Linked DNA regions of Homo sapiens: region 1 is linked to region 2. The links come from fine-mapping of genetic effects on gene expression. A gene starts in region 2. The other region holds a variant in brackets. All regions are shown on one strand. Distances are from middle to middle.

Region 1 (9,854 bases), 120 kb after region 2:
TACCTCTTGTTGTGTATTACCTCATTTAACGTATACAGTAACAGTGATATCAGTATTACTACCATCCATTTTACAGATAAGGACATCAAGACTGAAAGATGCTGGTTAAAAGCCTATGCAACTGACACATGGCAAAGTAGCAATTCTAAATCTCATCCTTCTTCCTTATACCCCCAAGATGGCAGGGGGAAAGAAAGTATTCTATTAAGGACATATGGAAGGGCTTCTTACCCAGACTTCTTTGCCTCATTGTCTCTCATCTCTGAAAATCCCTCATGCATTCCTTTATTATCAACATCACTTTTTGAGAAAAACTTCTTTTTAAGAGGTAAATAGATATAAAGTTCCAATAAAAATAATAATGCCTATCGGTTTTCTCCTTATAGGAGGGTCTAGGGTGGAGATGGGGCTGCATCAATGGAAGGGAAAATGAGTGTACATAATGCCACTGAATTGTACACTTAAAATTGTCAAAATGGTCATTTTAATGTTATGTATATTTTATCACAATTTTTTAATTTACCAAAATAAAACATTAAAAATTAAACATCATCATCTGTGGGGAAAAAATAGGAAAGTAGATTTCAGGAGATGAGCTTCACCTACCCCATATTTAACATGCAAGGACCTTCCTTCCATAAGACACTGGGACTGTAATATGGAAATGATTGATATTCTAAGAGATGCTAATTTTTAGAGTTGTTTGGATTTTCAGGTTCAATATTTCATTTTCATTTCAGAAGTATAATTTTAAACATCATAATGTCATTACATATTCCCTACATAGCAGCATATGTAAAACCCAGAAGCAAGACAGTGGCCTCTGACTCTCTGGCATACAGCAGTATCAGTTCCCAAAATAACAAGACATTCTTATTATGATTTAATCATAACTAGGAAAACCCAATATGTAGAGAGGTCATCTTAGAGTTTACAGGTAGAAAAATTTTTGTTTCTTTTAATGAAAAAATGTGTTTCCTTTTATTAGATGACAGTTTTTAAATTAATAGTTTTCCTTTTTTCACCTTGACTACCAGGAGCACAGAGCTAATTTGGGGGATGATTGCAATGATTTGTCTATAGCTTAGGCTTCATAAGTCAGTGTTTTCCTAGTTTTTCAATCCAAGTCTTGGTTCTTCCACTTTTGTTTTAATGGGTCAGTTGGATTTTTGATTTTTGTCATAAACGTCCTCATTTTTTTAAATAGGTAAGGAATAGAATATAAGTAAATGGAAGGACAGAACAACCACTTGACTGGCAGGCTGAAATAGAAGGGCATAGTAAATTCTTTATCAGTCACCCATCCCAGTTTAGATTCCTGCCTGGCTACGCTTTACTTGAGTTAGCTGCTTTTCTACTATCTGTATGCAAGTTATGTGTTCTCTCATCCGTGACTTGCTTGGGCCTGGCTAGCTGAAAGAAGAAGCTGGTCTTCACCTTCTGAAGCTAATATTGGTATAGAGTGCTTAGAGAGCCTCTGTTGGAGGGGAAGTGCTGTGTAACATACCTGCTCTTCACATACTGTCAGAAGAAAAGTCAGTTGAGCCCGAGTGGGCAGGGTTACCAAGGTACTGCTGGTGGAGGGGCCAAGCCCAGGGCTTCAAGATAGTAGCAGAAGCAGGAGGAAGGCCAGCCCTGCCGAGCTTGCCCTGGAGGTTGAGCCTGAGTTGATGCTGTCTTTGTCAGAGATGGCCTTCTAATGATGGTGGGTGTGCCTGTGTACCCCCGACCCCTGAGTGTAATGTAAAGCTTCTTTCTGCTTGTGTTCTAGCCCCTGAGTGTCTGCCTTATGTTTTAGGTTGGTTGTGGGGAAGAGTTTTCTGTGTGAGATTTTAGAGTGTGATGCTTGAGGGGAGTAGGTGCTGGGATAATTGGCTACCCACATGTAGGAGAACGAAACTGGGTCCTCATCTCTCACCTTATACAAAAATCAGCTCAAGGTGGATTAAGGACTTAAACCTAAGATCTGAAACTAAAATTTCTAGAGGATAACATTGGAAAAACCCTTCTAGACATTGGCTTAGGCAAGGATTTCATGACCAAAAACCCAAAAGCAAATGCAATAAAAACAAAGATAAATAGCTGGGACCTAATTAAACTAAATAGCTTTTGCACAGCAAAAGGAACAGTCAGCAGAGTAAACAGACAACCCACAGAGTGGGAGAAAATCTTCACAATCTAGCCATCTGACAAAGGACTAATATCCAGCATCTACAATGAACTCAAATAAGTAAGAAAAAACAATCCCATCAAAAAGTGGGTTAAAGACATGAATAGACAATTCTCAAAAGAAGATATACAAATGGCCAACAAACTTATGAAAAAATTCTCAACATCACTAATGATCAGGGAAATGCAAATCAAAACCACAATGTGATACCACCTTACTCCTGCAAGAATGGCCATAATCAAAAAATCAAAAACAGTAAATGTTGGCATGGATGCAGTGATCAGGGAACAATCCTGCACTGCTGGTGGGAATGTAAACTAGTACAGCCACTATGAAAAACAGTGTGGAGATTCCTTAAAGAACTAAAAGCAGAACTACCATTTGACCCAGAAATCACAGTGCTGGGTATCTACCCATAGGAAAAGAAGTCATTATTCGAAAAAGATACTTGTACACACATGTTTATTGCAGCACAATTCACAATTGCAAAATCGTGGAACTAACCCAAATGCCCATGAATCAATGAGTGGATAAAGAAACTCTGTTATATATGTATATATGTATACACACACACAGACACACACACACACACACGATGGAATACTACTCAGCCATAAAAATGAATGTATTAACAGCATTTGCAATGACCTGGATGAGATTGGAGACTACTATTTAAAGGGAAGTAACTCAGGAATGGAAAACCAAACATTGTATGTTCTCACTGATAAGTGGGAGCTAAGCTATGAGGATGCAAAGGTGTAAGAATGATACAGTGGACTTTACGGACTTCGGGGGAAGAGTGGGAGGGGAGGTGAGGGATAAAAGACTACAAATATGGTGCAGTGTATACTGCTCAGGTGATGGGTTCACCAGGATCTCACAAATCATCACTAAAGAACTCATGTAACCAAATACCACCTGTACCCCAATAACTTATGGAAAAATAAAAAAAAAAGATGTTTTATTTTTTAAAAATATTCTCTGACAAAACTTAAAGAAGAAAAACGAACCTCTTGGGCTGGGACCTGAGTGAGAACAGGGTGTGTCACCCAGGGTGAAAACAACCTCTGTTCTTTGTAGTCCCTCATCTACCCCTCTCATTTCTGCACCACCCTGGATCCAAAATGATAAGATTTAGAAGCTCACCAGCACATGTTTTGATTTTACGTTTTAAAGTCTCTTCACAACCCTAGATAGTTTATATTGAGATTAAGGAAGGGAAGGGATCATATTCAAATGACTTCGCTTTTTCTCTCTTCTCTCATTTATTAGTCATTCTGGAAAATCAAATGTCAGGTCAAATATGATGAAAGTTCAAAATCTGTTTCTATGATTAATTTTAATATGTCCTTCAGAAAAGGAGATTTCTTCCCTTCCCAAAAGTAGACAGCTTTGCTTCCTAGGCATTTCCTTTACAAATGAGGTTTTCTCTTTATTTTCAGTAACCACACAAAGATGGCAAAAATGTTGTGAGCAGGGTCTAAATTTTAGCAAGTAAGGGGAAGTTTCTGAGGATTTATAAAAATGGAAGCAAAGCAGAGAGCAATGAAACCAACCCTGTAGTTCAAGTTCAGGGCACTGTTTAGCTCAATACTATTCTTTTAGAGATCTATGGCCATGTGTTATAATTCCTTGTTACTCAAAGTATAGTAGGCAAGCCAGCATATTTGACATTACTGGGAACTTTTCAGAGAAGTCTTGAATGTCTTAAATTGACATGAATTTGAAAGAGGTCACATTAACTGTTAGTTAATATTAATATACCCCAAATAGTATTTGCATCATCAGTTTATTGGTTCCAATGAGCTCTCATTACCGGTAATAATTGAACCTTACCAGCTCAGTTTTCCCCGGCAGTGCCAAAGACGGGATCATGTTCATCTTCAGAGAGCCCATAAGCTTTCCTTGGAATCCTCCAAATGTCACCCATGCTACATTAGGAACAGATCCTGCCCCTGCCCCCTTGCCTATTGCTTACTGCCTGCAGGGTGTTCCATGGGACTCCACTAGGTCATGAGCAGAAATAGGGAGGGTGCTGCCTCCTCCAGTTTCTGTCGGCTGTTGTGCCCGGGCCCACATAGTCTTGTGTATACCCTAATTTAACTCCCAACCCCACTCTCCGCAGATCTAAGCTATCTTAAAGGCTACAATTTTGACTGACTTCTCGTGTCCTCACTACTTCACATTTCCATCCCCAGGCACTCTGGCACCAGACCCCTCCCACAGGCTTCTTCCTCCATGAAAATCACCTGCTACAGAATGATCAATGCCGGTGGGTCACCATTAATAGCCATCCTTCATATACTGTACTTGCAACTTTTGAATCCAGTTCAGGCTCAGCTGGAACCCCACCTCTGAGAAGCAACAGTATAATGTAGCTGGTTTAAACATCAGCCACCACCATCAGCACCACATCAACAGCCAGTGCATGCTGTTGTTTCACTACTAATAAAACCAAAACATTCGGAGAAGCAGTTTCTGAGATTACTAGAGATAGTCTTTGAGCTATCTGCTGAGATCACAAGGATATACAATTTAATTTGGGCAACTACATTTTAAGATGGGCATTGATAAACTAGGGAGGAGCCCCGC[A/G]TAGGCAAGAAAGATGTTGAGGTGTCTGAAAATCATTTACATAGAGTGAAAGGAAGTGGAGAGGGTAACTTGAGAATGGAGGTCAGGATAATGTCTTTAAATATTTAAACTGCTATCATGTGGACAGGTAGGGTCTCTTGTTCTGGATTATTCTAGTGTCCAGACTAAGATCAATGGGAGGAAACTACAGAGAGGCATATTCTGAAACCACAAATCGACCAACAAGGAGTAAATGCCCTGGGAGGCAGAGTTCTCTGTCACTCATGTGTCTAAGCTAAGACGAGTACGTTTACTTTAGAGCACTTTAGGAGAAATTATTGAATCGGGGGGGAATGAACACAGAATGCATTGTCTCTTGAAACATAAAAGCTGGAAGTAATCTTAAAGATTATCATCCAAGCTTAGGAGACTATGGCCCAGAATGGGGATTTGATTTATCCCAGTTCACACTAATCACTGTCAGGGGGGGACTAGAGCCTGCATTTTTTTTTTTTTTTTTTTTTTGAGACTAGAGCCTGCATTTTGAGTCCCTGTCTCATGATGCTTTTCTCTACATGCCATTCTTCCCTCTAAGATCCCACACAAATTTTAGCCTCTCTAATGAATGCCATAGATGGGAAAAGAATAGGCACAGAGAGTCCAGGTGACAGTGGCTGGGACAGACCTGGGTGGTGCCAATGATATGGAGACCAATTTTAGAGTCTACTTTGGGATTATAGAACAAGATGACTTTTCTATTCATTTTACTCAGCAAAAATGCATTTTTGGTTCTTTTCTTCCCACATATTGAGTTTTGAAGAATCTGCAATTTGCTTTCCGGTAATTTTTTCTGATATCATTTTCATGTATGAGCAATATCAACGTCAACTCAATCAAAAGTCACTTGTCCTGGTTCTTCTCAACTTCATGCTTCCCTTGGCTGCACCATGCTGAGTGTCCCTGGGCTCTGTCTTCTCTTTTGTCCTTCCTTTCCCTGTCCCTTTCCTATGTTGCTTCCAGTGAGGTATGAAAGGAGGAAGTCACTGGGAACCTGTAAAGGGGAAGGGAAAGACTGTGGGAGAAGGGAACCAAAACAGGAGATGGATGGCCCAAAGAAACTTTGCTGACTTCTTCTAATTTTTGCCTCAACCTTTTCTTATTTCAGTCATCTGTGCTAAGAAAAAGAGAAGCTATGAGCACATGCCCTTTCACATCCTACCTCACATGCCCCAGGAATGATGGCCACAAGGCCCATGTAAGCAGAAGTAGCTCCCTCATGGCCTGACATTCAAAATGGCTACCATCATAGTAATTCCTCTGGGGGAAAAACACCTCTAAAATGGAGTTGTTATTGAGAATTTCACTGATGCCTGAACATCTCTGAGGGAAGTAAGAGAGTACTGCGAGGGGGTGGGGCATGACACTGGGCATCCTTGGGGATAGATGGTTAGAGACCTTCCTGGGAAGGGTTTGGAGTGGACCTCATGTATCTTGGGATCCCTGGGCTAAGGCACTAAGGATGCCTGAGACAAATCAGGTAAGTTCCCTGGAAGGTCAACACATGAATGCATTGATTCTTTGACTCCAAATCCTTTATTAAATCAGGGAATAAGGGAATGGCTCAGCATTTTCTTAGTGGTTATATGAGGCAGTAAGAACTTCAGCTGGACTTTACCCTAATGGATTGTCATTTGAGCTTCCCTTTTTAGGCATGATCTATAAACCTCTAATAAGAACTGTGTTCTTATAGAGTTTCTCAATAAATATTAATTTCCTGTTGTAACTGTGCCACCAGTTCAGTGACTTTGGATAAATAATATCGCCAATCTTCAGATTCCTTTGACTATAATATGGGGGCTTGAACTAAATGGTATTCAAGGTTCCATGTAGGCTTGTTTAAGACAATAAAAAAATAAAAAAAAATTTGGTCTTTGTCTTCAGTTTCTAAAACCCTTGGAATTTCCTGAGTGATAGGAGTGTATCTTGTTATTCATAATGAGCCCCTTTCAACTATACCTGAGTTTATGCTAATGATGTGACCTTTCATGGGCCCCTAGATAGCTTCAGGATGGGGCAGGAGGCCAGGAAGACCAAACAGGTAATTAGAAGTTTGCAGCTTTCAATGCTCCCCACTCTGGGAAGGAAGAGGCCCTAGAGAGTGAATTCAATCACCAATGGCCAGTGATAGAATCAATCATGCCTGTGTTAAAAATAAAGCAAAACTCCATAAAGACCCCTGGCAGCAGGGATTCTGATTCTGTAGGCCTTGGGTGGGGCCATGGAATCTGTATTGAAACAACTCTTCCAGAGATTTGGATGAGCAATCATATCTGGGAGAAACTTTTCTGGAAAACCCACTTTCAATAGTTCAAGTTGATCCAGGTCACCAACTAGTTTTGTTGAACTTGTTTTTGTTAACTAGACTTTGCTTCCCAGCATCCCTTTTCCCTTTCTTCTGATAATAGCATGTTGATTTTCATAGGGGACACCATCTCTTTCTTCTTTTCAGTCTGTGGGGCTCCGGAGGAGGTGACCCCACCTCTGGTTACAGCAGTAGCTCATAACCCGTGGTGGCCAGTTAATAGATTCTGTCCTTTTTGAAAAAGTGATTGTTTCAAGAATAGACACATAAAACAACCTGGTTCAGTAAAACCAATCCTTGGATTTTTGCCAGATATTGCAAAAGAAATTTTCTTTTTCTTTTGAGATTGCTAATCTGGAGAGATGTAAACCATGGCCTGCTGATGGCCATCTTGCCTCCATGAGGGTGGGGCTGCTTGAGAACGGAGCCGAGATACGAGAAAATTTGAGGGGATGGGAGTGCAGAGAGAGAGAAAGTCAGATCCCTGGTAACATCATGTAAAGCCCTAAATCAATCAATGCCATGCCTAAAGCTAGATCATTACCAAAACTTTCTCTTATAGGCACCAACACATTCCCTTTTCTTCTATTTAGCCAGTTTAAGTTGGGTTTCTGTCACTTAAACCAAATATATCTTTCATAGCATTTTCAAATTGCCCTTCCACTCTAGCTCCAGATGGCCTGGGAGGAACATAAACAAAGCTCCTAAATCTCACTGCCTGAAATTATTTGAGGTCAGGAGACTGAGTCTGAGTCCTAGTGCTACCATCATTCACTAATAATGATCAGAAACAAGCAATATCGTCACCTGTAAAGCATGCACAGGGTTATTGTGATAACTAAATGGGATGAAGCATCTACATTTACTATCTCAGCGGTATGAACGTGTTAAAATGTAAATGTGGGGCTCAAGAGAAAAGCAGTGATGACATTTGGTGTCTGCTCTGTGCCAGGCACTCTGCATATTTAATCTTATTTCATCTTTACAATAGTCCTGTGAGGCAGGTTGTGGTGAGGGTTCACATTCACATATAGAGCACCTAGTATATTTCCTGGTTTGGAGAAGTTGCTCAATAAATATTAATTTCCTGTTATAACTGTGCCACCAATTTAGAGACTTTGGATAAATAATATATCCAATCTTCAGATTCCTTTGACTAGAATATGGGGGCTTGAACTAAATGGTATTTAAGGTTCCATGTAGGCTTAATTGTTTAAGACAAAATTTTTGAACATGGCACTTGGAAAAAGCGTTCCATGATCAGAAAGGCTGGGGACAGGCTGGGATCAAAGTTAAGCAAGATCTTGTCCAGGGTCATGTAGCAAATCTGTAGTCAAGCCTGAGGTGATGGTGTTCTGTATCTTGATACGGGTTTGGGTTACACAGGTGCATATGTTTGTCAAAATGAGGCACCTGTAGACTTAGTATTTGTGCATTTCATAACATGTAAATTTTACATCAAATGAAGTGTTTAGATGGAAACATATTGAAGCCTGTAATTTACTTCAAAATGCACCAAAATTAGGAAGAAGTAATGGATGGGTAGAGGGATAGCTGAATGGACAGATGCAACAAAGCACAGATAGTAAAACTATAATGATAGAATTTAGGTGGGGCTATGCCAGTGTTCACTAAAAAGTGCCCTCAACTGTGCCATATGAGATTTTTCATAATAAAATGTTAGAAAAAAATAACCTAGAGCCAAGCCTGGATTTCTGCCCAAGAGCTTCGATCAGCCCATGGCACCTGCTTCCCTCGGGGCCTCCATGAGAGGACCCATTGCCTAAGGGTATGAGTGCTCCTTCTCTGTAGGACTTCTAAGCTGAGACAGGCACACTCTTCTTTTGTGGCAATTCCCCTCCTGGGCAAACAAGGCTCACCCTTTCTCATAAAAAGGGAAGCAAGATTTCCTCTAGCTCATTCCCCTCATTTTAATGAGAGCCAAAGCTAAAGAGGCCACAGGGAACAGTTCTGAAATAATCCCTTTCTTCAGCTGTCATCGCCTCTACTCCCAGCTGCTCCCTTGGCTTCGGCAGCTCCTTTCCTCTAACAGTCATTTTAGCACCCTTGCCCCTCCCTTGGCCTCCCTCTCTCCTCTTGGCCTCGTTTCTGGGCCCAGCAAGCCGTGGAAACATCTGAGATTCCTCTTTTGCCTTCCCTCTTTTAATCTTATCTGAGACAAGTCCAGGGGTTTAAGCAGACTTCTCTAATTATGGTTTTAGTCTGTTTAATAAATTAATCAGGCACATCAAATCTGCTCCTGCTCTTAAACTCTGACTTCAGTCCATTTTTGCATAATAATAGCTCCTGTCATTTGCATTTGCTTTTCTTAATTCCAAGCCCCTTTCGTTCTCTATTCATTGCTCTATATACATTTTCACAAGCTAGATTGGCAAGTATTATTTCTGTTTCACAGATGGAGACTCTGGGAGATGTTACAAATTAAGAGTTATTGAGTTCCTACTGTGTGCACTCACTGTGCTGTCTGCTTCTATGTACACAGTCCCGCTTGAAATCCACAACCTCTTTGTGAGGTGTCTATTGTATGGGCACCACTTTTGCAAATGAGGAAACTGAGGCCCAGAGAGAATATTTTCTGAGGTACAACCACCAGATGGTAATTGCCATGAGAAGTGCAGTCCCACAGAATGTCAGAGCAGGAGGGATGTTGGTAGCTTCCTAGGCCAACTTCTATATTTTCTGGTTGAGGATATTAAGGCCTAGAGAGTTAAGTGAGCTATTTAGAAGCGA
Region 2 (9,854 bases):
TACCATAATCAAGCTTAGTAATCCTTCTTCTTACCTTCCTCCAGGATTTTGACTAGATGGGATTCTTTGTCTAATGAAGTGACCTAAACCTTCATTTCTACAGAATTGAGCCGTTGATAGGCCTGTCTTTACTGGGTTGCTGCAGTTTTCCACTGACTAGGACTGTTAGCACTAAGAGGCATTCCAGTGAATTTCCTCGTTTCCATATATAGCCTATATAGCCTTCTTGTTTCCATTGTAAAACAGAAACACAGTTTTCCTCTGATAACTGGAATTAGCTACCCTGGCCAGTCCATTGAGCTGCTTTTCTGTTACTTTAATGGCATGAGGAACCTCAAAAGGCCAGGGCCAGTCTCGGCTCCTAAATCATCAAAACATGATTATTTTTCCTGAAGGAAGTGTTCTACTCTTGGACTCTAGAATTTCTAAACCCACCAAGCCCAACATTTTGGGAATGGGAAGCAAAAATTATTCACGTAGATTCTTAGGTATACTATTGAACAGAAACACTCCTTCTACCCTTTGGCTCTGAGACCTGTGCATCCTGATAGTGGGGAGACAGCTCCATATATTGACTGCTTATTAAATTAATGTACCACATTCTATAGGACACCACCCTACCTTTTCATGATGTTGCCTCCCAGATATCTCTGTAACCGAGCTCTCATTTTGCCACTCAGCTGTTCTATCAAGCTAGTTACTTTAGGAGATAAGCATGTGTTAAAACCATTGAATTCACTTCCATTGCCATAAACTGTGTACCTGGTTGGAAGAAATGTTTTTGGGATTCCTATGCAATGGATAAAACCTTCAGAAATGTCAAGAATATTAGTGCCAGTGGAAACACTGCAGGCAGAGAATGCAGATTTATACCTTGAATGTGAATTATCTTTGTGAAGACAAAGTGCTACCTATTTCTTATGGAAATTGCCCAATGTAACCATCATGTTACCGGGTTGCCAGCAAGTCTCATTGACAGTAATGCCATATTAGGAACCCAGCCTTGGAAATGTAGTCACACTCCACGTTGTTGCCAGGTTGGGCATTCGGCAATGATAGTAGCCAAATAATGTAGGTAAGGAGAAGACCATACTATTGAACCTCTGTCACTGCTTTGATAGCCACTTGGTACATGGGCCCATTAACCAAGCCCTGGGTTGGCTGGAGAAAAAGACTGACATCTACCAGACAATTCATCTTGTTCCGCTTATTATTGAAAATCTTCTCCACCTGATGCATCCTGTTAGGCACTTATGGGGGATATGAATATCTTCACATGCCCTCACCACTCCAAGAGGGTTATCTGTAAGTCTCACGGACAGATCTTTTACAAATTTTCCATTTTGTTCTTTCCAAGAACCTAAAAGCTGGACAATCCATTAGACACTGCCTGTAAGTCAGTATATTTATCAGTTTGTCATGTCGTCCCCTCCTTTCTTGAATGTGAATAACCAGGTATGTAGCTAGAAATTGCCCACTAGGAAGATTCGCTGTCCCCATTAGCAATGCACGGATCTGAAATTGTCTCACTTCTTTACATATCTGTCTGTCTCCCAGATTAGACTATAAAATCTCCATGAGAACTAGGACTGTGTCTCCTGTTCGCACAATATCCCTAATGTCTAGCACATAGAATATATTCTAAACATATGTGGCGTAAGTGATTGATGCATTTTCTTGAACATTTGGAGAGAAAATGTTAAGCAATTAAACTTGTAACCAATTTAAGATTTTTTTTAGTACATGTGACTGTATTATGAAGAACAATGCAAAATTTGGAGCAATTTACAAGAAGATGGAACAGTTCAAGTAAATTTGCCCATGACACTAGTGACTTCAGGCTCTTTTATGTATGCAACCTAAGTGATGAATAGGGAAGTACGTGTTTATGGAATCTGTCATTGGTGGTATTTCAGTGGGAAAATGTGAAAAGCTCTGATTTTGAAGGGTTGCCAGAGAAAGAGGAACAGGCAGAGGAAACTGAAAGAAGAATTTTTTTTTTTTTTTTTTTTTTTTGAGACGGAGTCTCACTCTGTGGCCCAGGCTGGAGTGCAGTGGCGCGATCTCGGCTCACTGCAAGCTCCGCCTCCCGGGTTCAAGCCATTCTCCTGCCTCACCCTCCCAAGTAGCTGGGACTACAGGCAGCTGCCACCACTCCCGGCTAATTTTTTGTATTTTTTAGTAGAGACGGGGTTTCACCGTGTTAGCCAGGATGGTCTCGATCTCCTGACCTCGTGATTCACCCGCCTCGGCCTCCCAACAGGCCTGAAAGAATTTTAACAAGCAGGATGAGCATAAAGGCAAAGTGGGGTTGTCAACATCAAGGAAACAGAGTGTTGGGAAACAATGGTCGACTTTGTCAATCGCCAAAGAGACTCCCAGGAAAAATGAGGGCAACAAAAGTATCAGTTGGATTTAGGAGGCCACTGCTTACCCAAAGAGTTCAGGTAGAATTGTTGGGAGGTGCAGTGGTTGGAGAATCAACTCCGTGAATAATGAATTGTGTTGACACGGTACATAATACGGTATTTCTGACTACATTGGCGGCATTTCACTAAGTAATTACTACCTGAAGTGCCTACCTTCAGTAAGGCATCCTGTTGTTGGATGGGGAAAGAGAAGGAGGAAATAACTCTTAGCTTTACCTGTACTGTGCTTCTGAGACCCAGGTATGGACCTTCACTCCCAATTTACTATCCATGGTCTCATCCGATGTTCAGTAACTGGGTTCTCCTTTGGCAGGGAGTAGGGATTGCCTGAGAATTAAAAGGGGAGGGGAGATTTCTGAACTGGACCTCTTAGGTTATGACTAGATTGGGTGCCTGAGGCAGCAATGGGGCTTTATAAGGCTTCTTTACGCTTCATTTAACTAATTGCTTTTTTGTTCTCTCTTATTCAGTGGAGTTCCAATCTGTTCGGTTGTGGAGAACGAACCTGAGAAAAAGGATCTTTCGCAGGGTAGTTTTTGGGGGCAGAGGCTGATGTGCTGCACCCCCTAATCAGGGGTATGGTTGGCTGCAGTAGTCAAGTGAGAGGGCCGCAAAGGGAAAGGAAAAGTCGAGACTATCTTAGGGAACCAGGAGAGTCGCTGTACCTCTGAAAGATCTACGGTTTGTCTGGTCTGTAAGGAGCAAACACGGTGGAATTCCTTTCCAGATTTTTCTGGGCCTCGACCTCTGGCTTTTGGGGTACATGCCAAAAAAAAAAAAAAAAAAAAAAGCGCAGGGAGAGTCCACTAGCCTCGGTGACAGTTCCCCATTGCGGTTTCCCCTCCTCCACCCTTCTTTGCGAGCTCCTTCCCTCTGCAGAGAGTTATCCCGCCACATTAACCCCTGACTCACAGCTGGACCGCCCCGGCCCGCAGCGCCACGTCCCGGGTGGGGCCTGCCACGGCAAAGCAGCAGTCCGGCCTCGAGCGGCCCCTCGGGGGCGGCGGGGTGGGCGCCAACAGCAGTCAGGCCTGACAAGCGGCGACCTCCAAGGGTGAGGCCTCTGCGGGCCCCCGACTCACGCGCGTCCGGGCTCTGCAAGCGCGGTGGGGAGCAGGCTGCTGTGGTCGCGGGGACTGGGTTGCGGCGCGCCGCGTACGGGACGGCCCCAAACTCTCGACGCCCGGGGCAAGACGCCCACCCCCTGGGCGCTCTCGCTGGGCCAGAAAGGAAGACAGAAAAGCCGCGGGCTGACTGTGGTGGCGCTCGCCTGCAGGCAAGTACCGGGCGCTAGGGCGGGGGCCGCCGCCGGGGGCGCGGGGTGGGCTGGGGCCAGGCCGCCAGGGGCGCGGGGTGGTCTGGGGGCCAGGCCGCCTGCGCTACCTCCCCAGCCTACCCGACCCGACGGCGCGGGTGCTGGCGCTGTTGTCCCCAGCGGGGCGGGCAGGCCTTTCCGTCACTTGGCTTACTCTGAAGGGAAAATCCACACAGCTGTCTGCCTTTTTGTTTCATTTTGACTAGAAAACCCATTTTCGAAAAGACACCTCAGAACCATAAGCAAATAGCCCAGAGTCTTAAATGCTCTAAAGGCTCTGCATGAGCCCCTGCCAGGCACACAGAGCCAGTGCTGGAGGTTTTGGCATGGGTTTTCCTACTTGGCTTTTTGTGCAAAGCTAATTTGGATAAAAATAATTTGACTGGCAGCTGTGAGCTAGTTTTCAGTGTATTAGGACCTCTCCAGCTTTCCACGGTAGTAAACTTCTTAAAGAAAGTATTTTAAAATATTCTCATATTTATTATTATTTTTTAATTTATCCTTTTAATTTTGAAAAGCAAGGGTGGGAAAGGCTATATGATCTGGAGGTAAAAATACACCATTATATAGAGTTGAAGTGTCATCCCCTGAACCCACATTGCACGTCTACACAGGAGAAGAACTTGTCCTTCTCCAAGTGTTTAGTATTCCTTAGATTAGTGTTTTTCAAACAAGCCTGATGGTAAGACGCATTTGGGACTTTTGTTTAAAATGCATCCCCCCACCTCTGAAGGTTTAATTTGGTAAGCTTGATTTCCAGAATCTGTATTTCTATTTTTTTATTGTTTAATTTAATTTTATGTTCTGGGATACATGTGCAGGACTTGCAGGTTTGTTACATAGATAAACGTGTGCCATGGTGGTTTGCTGCACCTATCAGCCCATCAATCCTTACATTTTAATATTTTGAAGTAGTAGGATGGTTATAAATGGAGTTAAGCAACTCCACTTTATATCTCATTCAAATCAGAAAATAGATAAGCAGGTATAGAATATTGACACCTACATTTGAAGCAAAGTAAATGTGACATGTACGCCTTACCGTATGGAACTTGAAGTATAAACCATGTTTACACTGTTGAATCATGGGCATCTGTGTTGAGTCATTTGTTCCTTATGCTATTCTTAAAATGTATTCATTTAACAAATATCTGCTGTTAAATCTTCTGTCTTTAATCCCCCCTAGACCACACATCCCATTCTAGGTCCCGCTCCCCTACTTTGCTTCTTTTTATAACAAACAAAAATCCTCTTTGAAAGATTTAATCTAAGTCTCCATTTTCATTTTCCCTGTTTCTTCCTACCCCCTCTCATCTGAGGCTTTTTGTCCCCATTACCCCCTGCATGGTCCTGATGTTGCCAATGACTGTCTTGTGAAATCCAGTGTCTGTGCACAGTTCTCATCTTTCCTGACCCCTCAGTAACATTTGATCACTCCCTCCTCAATATTCTTTTTTCTTCACTAATGTTCTTCACTAATATTCTTTCTTCTTCACTTGGCTTCCAGGTCACCATATTCTGCATTTCATTCTGCTTCATTGTGTCTCCAGGCTTCCCCACCACTAAATCTTAGTATGCCACAGAGTTCATTTCTTGGCCATATTTTTCTAGCCATACTTTCCCCCAGGACAATTTGTATCCCAAGCCATATTCCTTGGCTATAAATAATATCTATCAGCTGATGACTTCCAAAATTTTATTCCTAGCTTTAGTTCGCTTCTGAGCTCCAGATGTATGTGTATGTCCAGCTGTTTACTCAGCATCTCCACTTGGAAGTCTGATAGGCATTTAAATTTAGTATGGACAGATAGAACTACTGATGCCAGATTCACCAAGTTCTCCCTCTGTTTCCCCTCAGCTCCCTCCCTTATCTCAATAAACAGCCTCAGTTACTGCCATTCAAGTAGGCCGGAATTCTAGGAATTTACTCTTGACTTCTCTTTTTAGGTCAGACTCCGCATCCAAGCATCCAACAAAATCTGTTGACTCTACCCAGATCTGCCCACCTCTCTCTCCCTCTCTAAGCTAAGCCACAGTCCTCTCCTACCTACATGATTGAGAAGTCTCTGCCTCTGCCCTTGCTCCTCTACAGTCTTTTCCAAATAGCAGTGATTTTTGTCATACATACTCAGAACTTTCATTTCCCTTCAAAACCTTCTGGTGGCTTCTTATCAGAATCACAAAAAAAAAGAAAGAAAAAAAAAAGAAAAGAAAAACAGGCTTACAATGGCTTTAAAGCCCTGTGTGATCTAGTCCCTGACTAGTTCTCTGAACTCATCTCCTGACTTCCCTCTCATCCACTCCACTGTAGTAACACTGATTGTGCTGCTGTTGCCTTTGCCTGCAGCTGGTGTCTGCTAGACCATTGCACACTGTACTCCCTCACTTCTCTGTTAGCATGCTGCCTCAGGGGTTACTGTGCTATTGCAGCAAGATCTCTTTTGCTGCTGGGCCTGTGCGGTAGGTTGCTATTAAATACTGAATGCTACTCTCTAGTATTCCATGAAGCTTATGGAACCTTTAAAACATTGTTGGTTGCTTGAGTTCCCTAATATTAAAAATGCACAACCATTTTTCTTTTGAGCCTAATTTTGATAAGATGGACAGTTTGCCTTTAAGTTCTATGTTTTTATAAAATCTCTTCCTGATTTGGAGATTTGCCCTTTACCATCAGTTTTCATTTTTAGATACAGAAAATGGAAGAAAAATATCCAGTTCACTAAAAAGAATATGTAATAATATTTGGTGGGGGGCAGTTACTTTGCCCCCCTCCCCCCACCAATAGGGGCAATAGGAAATAGGAAGCAATAATCTAACATTTGGAGACTCTTTGAATGGTACCAGCAGCAGGTAGTTTATGGGAAGAAGAAAAATAAAGACACTTGTTCAGAGAATAATATACAAGTTTCTAAGTTCTGCAGTGACTAAGCCAATGTCAGAGTTGTGAAGATTTTATAAGATATTATATAAATTGAACTTTTTTTTTTTTTTTTTTGAGACAAGGTCTTGCTATGTTGCCCAGGCTGGTCTTAAACTCACAGGCTCAAGCAATTTTCCCACCTCAACCTCCCAAATAGCTGGGCCTAGAGGCACATACCACTGCATCTGGCTCCAGTTCTCTTTTGAGGACTATGTAGAAATGAAAAACAATATTTTCATCTTTATGAAGAGGTGTAGCAACTAAAAGATTGTTTAATTTATAATCCTTATTTCTCATTTTAATCTCAAGGAACTGGTTCTGTTATCAGTAGCGTATGTACTATCACCCCTTCTTGTAAAAGAAAAGAAGAAAATTCCTTCTTATTTCAGAATTAGGATTTAAGATACTTTAATAAATATTTCCAATATAAGATTAAATTAAATTAAATAATAAGTAGATTTGGAATATCGAACAGAGAGAAGAGTAGGGGGGTTAAGCAGAAACTAGGAGTGAAGTTATTAATAGTATCAAAACACTTGCCATAAGCTTCTGTCTGTTGGCCAGAGCACTCATTAACGTGGAGCTTCCTAGCAACTGAGTGAAGAGATAGGGTCCACAAGATGAAAAAGCAGTGCCCAGGTGAAGATCGGATAGAAGCATTTTTTTAAACATTTACTTGCTCAAGGACCTGTTTTAGGTACGATGAAGATGAATGTTCTGTCCTTTGGTACTTAAGAAGAGTGTTGGAGAAGCCCTGTTTGGTTTAGAGTTAGCAAACCCATGCTCTTGGAATATTTGCATATAAATAAAAAACAGATGAAATAGAGCTAAACCTGGAGATAGGCTAAACTCATTTGGAACGTAGAGATAGAGCATGTAAGGAAGACACTTACCAAAGGTGTTGGAAAAGATATATATAAGGAAGATACTATTTAGATGGAAATCAAATCAACATAATTGACATAATTGTTGACAATTATTGACCTAATTGATATTTATAAAAATATAAAGCCTAGAAAATGAATTTTTATTTACTAAAAAACTATTTTTTCAGACTGTGTGATCATTGTTCAAAAGGTGAACATGTATGTGTATATATGTGTACATGTGAAGAACACGTGAGTTCTTCACATATATATGAAGGAATACATATATATACACATTTATATATTCTTATGCATATACCATTCACAGAGGATCAATGTTACCTTTTTGGTATTCACTTGGCCCATGAACAACATGGGTTTGTATTATGTGGGTCCCCTCATATGTGGATTTTCTCCAACAAAACATGGATCAAAAATGCGGTATTCCAGGATGCAAAACCCACACATACGGAGGGCTGACTTTTTGTATACGCAGGCTCTGCAGGCTGACTGTGGGACTTGAGTATTCTTGGATTTTGGTATATGCAGGGGTCCTGGAACCCCTGGAATCAGTCTTCCCTACCCTTAAGTATACCAAGAGACGACAGTACTTCTTTCTAATCTATTTTCTCTGCATTTTGTTTAACAAAGCTGAGATCATATTCTGTATACTATTTTACAGTCAGTTCCTTTTCTTTAATTACATTTCATTTTCGTGTCATGAGAAGCGTTTTTCTCATGTCATTAAAATTGTTCATAACATTCATAAACATTTTTAATGGTTTAATAGGATTCGATCATATGAATAATGTGACATAGTTAATATTATCATTCCCCAGTTTTTGGATATTTTTATTTTTACCTCCAATGGAATTTTGACTAGCTTATGATTGTACAAGATCTCTTATGATAATAAAATATAGTCATATAACTCATACTTCAAATATGCCAGAAAATATCTCCATAGATTGCATGACAAGAGAAAGCTAAGCCAGTTTGAGAAACTGACAAAAAGGTCTGTCAACCTAAATAACAGAGGGAGATAGAGGCTCTCTAAAAGAAAGTAATATTTATTCAGAAATGGGCGTTGCAGTGGGAATATGTGTGCCATAGTAAATTGTGTGTACTCAGGGAAGTAAAGGCAGACAAAGATTTTCAAAGTAAAAATGAGGAGGTTTACATAATTGTTTTGAGATAATTATTTTTGGCTTGTGGGTAAATAACAAGGGTGGCACCAGTCTGAAATTGGACAGGAAGTTGCTGGGCAGTTGTTCTTGCAGAAGTACTTTTTATATAGGACTGTGATGGCATTTGTGCAAGGTTCTGTTTTTGTTTGTTTGTTTGTTTGTTTTTGAGACGGAGTCTCACTGTCTCCCAGGCTGGAGTGTGCAGTGGCGTGATCTCGGCTCACTGCAAGCTCCACCTCCTAGGTTCACGCCATTCTCCTGCCTCAGCCTCCCGAGTAGCTGGGACTACAGGCACCCGCCACCACGCCAGGCTAATTTTTTGCATTTTTAGTAGAGACGGGGTTTCACCATGTTAGTCAGGATGGTCTTGATCTCCTGACCTCATGATCCACCCACCTTGGCCTCCCAAAGTGCTGGGATTACAGGCGTGAGCCACCGCGCCCAGCCAAGGTTCTGGTTTTTGGGGAGACTTTTATGATAGTTCTGGTTACTAGGCATTTATATTTAAGAACCTTTCCTTCATGGCCTTTCCTGGCTCTGATTGTCCGGTTTTTTAACACTAGTAACTCCACTTTGATTCTGACAACTCTTACAGACCCATAAAGACCCATGTGCAGGGAGCTGGAGGAACAAAGTGGAGAAAAGCATGAGATGAGGTTGAAGCTGAAGGAGCCAGGCTATGCAGGGTATTATTTGTCATATCAAGAAATTTTTATATCAAGCACAGTAGGAAGCCAATGCAGGGTTATAAATGGGAGTAACTCAAATCAGATGTTTTGAAAGATCATCCTGGCTGTTGAGTGGAGAATGGATTAGACTGATTGAGAGTAGGGGACCAATTAGGAGGCAGTGCAGAAGACCAGGATAGAGACATTGATCTAGAATGAAAATGTGGTAGAGAGGAAACTTGAAACAATTTGAGATTATCTGTTAGAGTTAGATACACAGGACTTGGTGATCACTTGGAAGTGCAGGAATAGGAGAGTAAGAGGAAGGTATCAAGGATACCCCAGGTTTTGGGTAATAACAGGACAAATGATAATGCCTTTTACCATGATGGAGAAGTCTGGGAAAATGAGGTGCAAGCTACCTTCCAGGTCAGCAAGTAAGACAAATTAAGAGTGCTGGGCAATACAT

The links.
Region 1: its variant is fine-mapped to the expression of TICAM2-AS1 in sigmoid colon (GTEx, PIP 0.92).

What each region holds. Positions count from the first base shown.
Region 1 is chr5:115,472,076-115,481,929 of GRCh38, reverse strand. No RefSeq gene overlaps it. Among named protein-coding and RNA genes, the nearest start is that of FEM1C, 68 kb to the left of the region's middle. RefSeq lists an enhancer at 1,442-1,491. The variant A/G (reference allele first, on the strand shown) is at 4,763.
Region 2 is chr5:115,595,948-115,605,801 of GRCh38, reverse strand. TICAM2-AS1 (TICAM2 antisense RNA 1) reads right to left here and starts at 3,647. Exons shown (of 3, transcript NR_109875.1): 1 at 3,342-3,647; 2 at 2,646-2,756. The region is part of intron 3 of TMED7-TICAM2 (TMED7-TICAM2 readthrough); the gene reads left to right. TICAM2 (TIR domain containing adaptor molecule 2) reads left to right here and starts at 3,323. Exons shown (of 2, transcript NM_021649.7): 1 at 3,323-3,705. RefSeq lists a silencer at 3,332-3,831 and enhancers at 3,451-3,973, 3,922-4,001.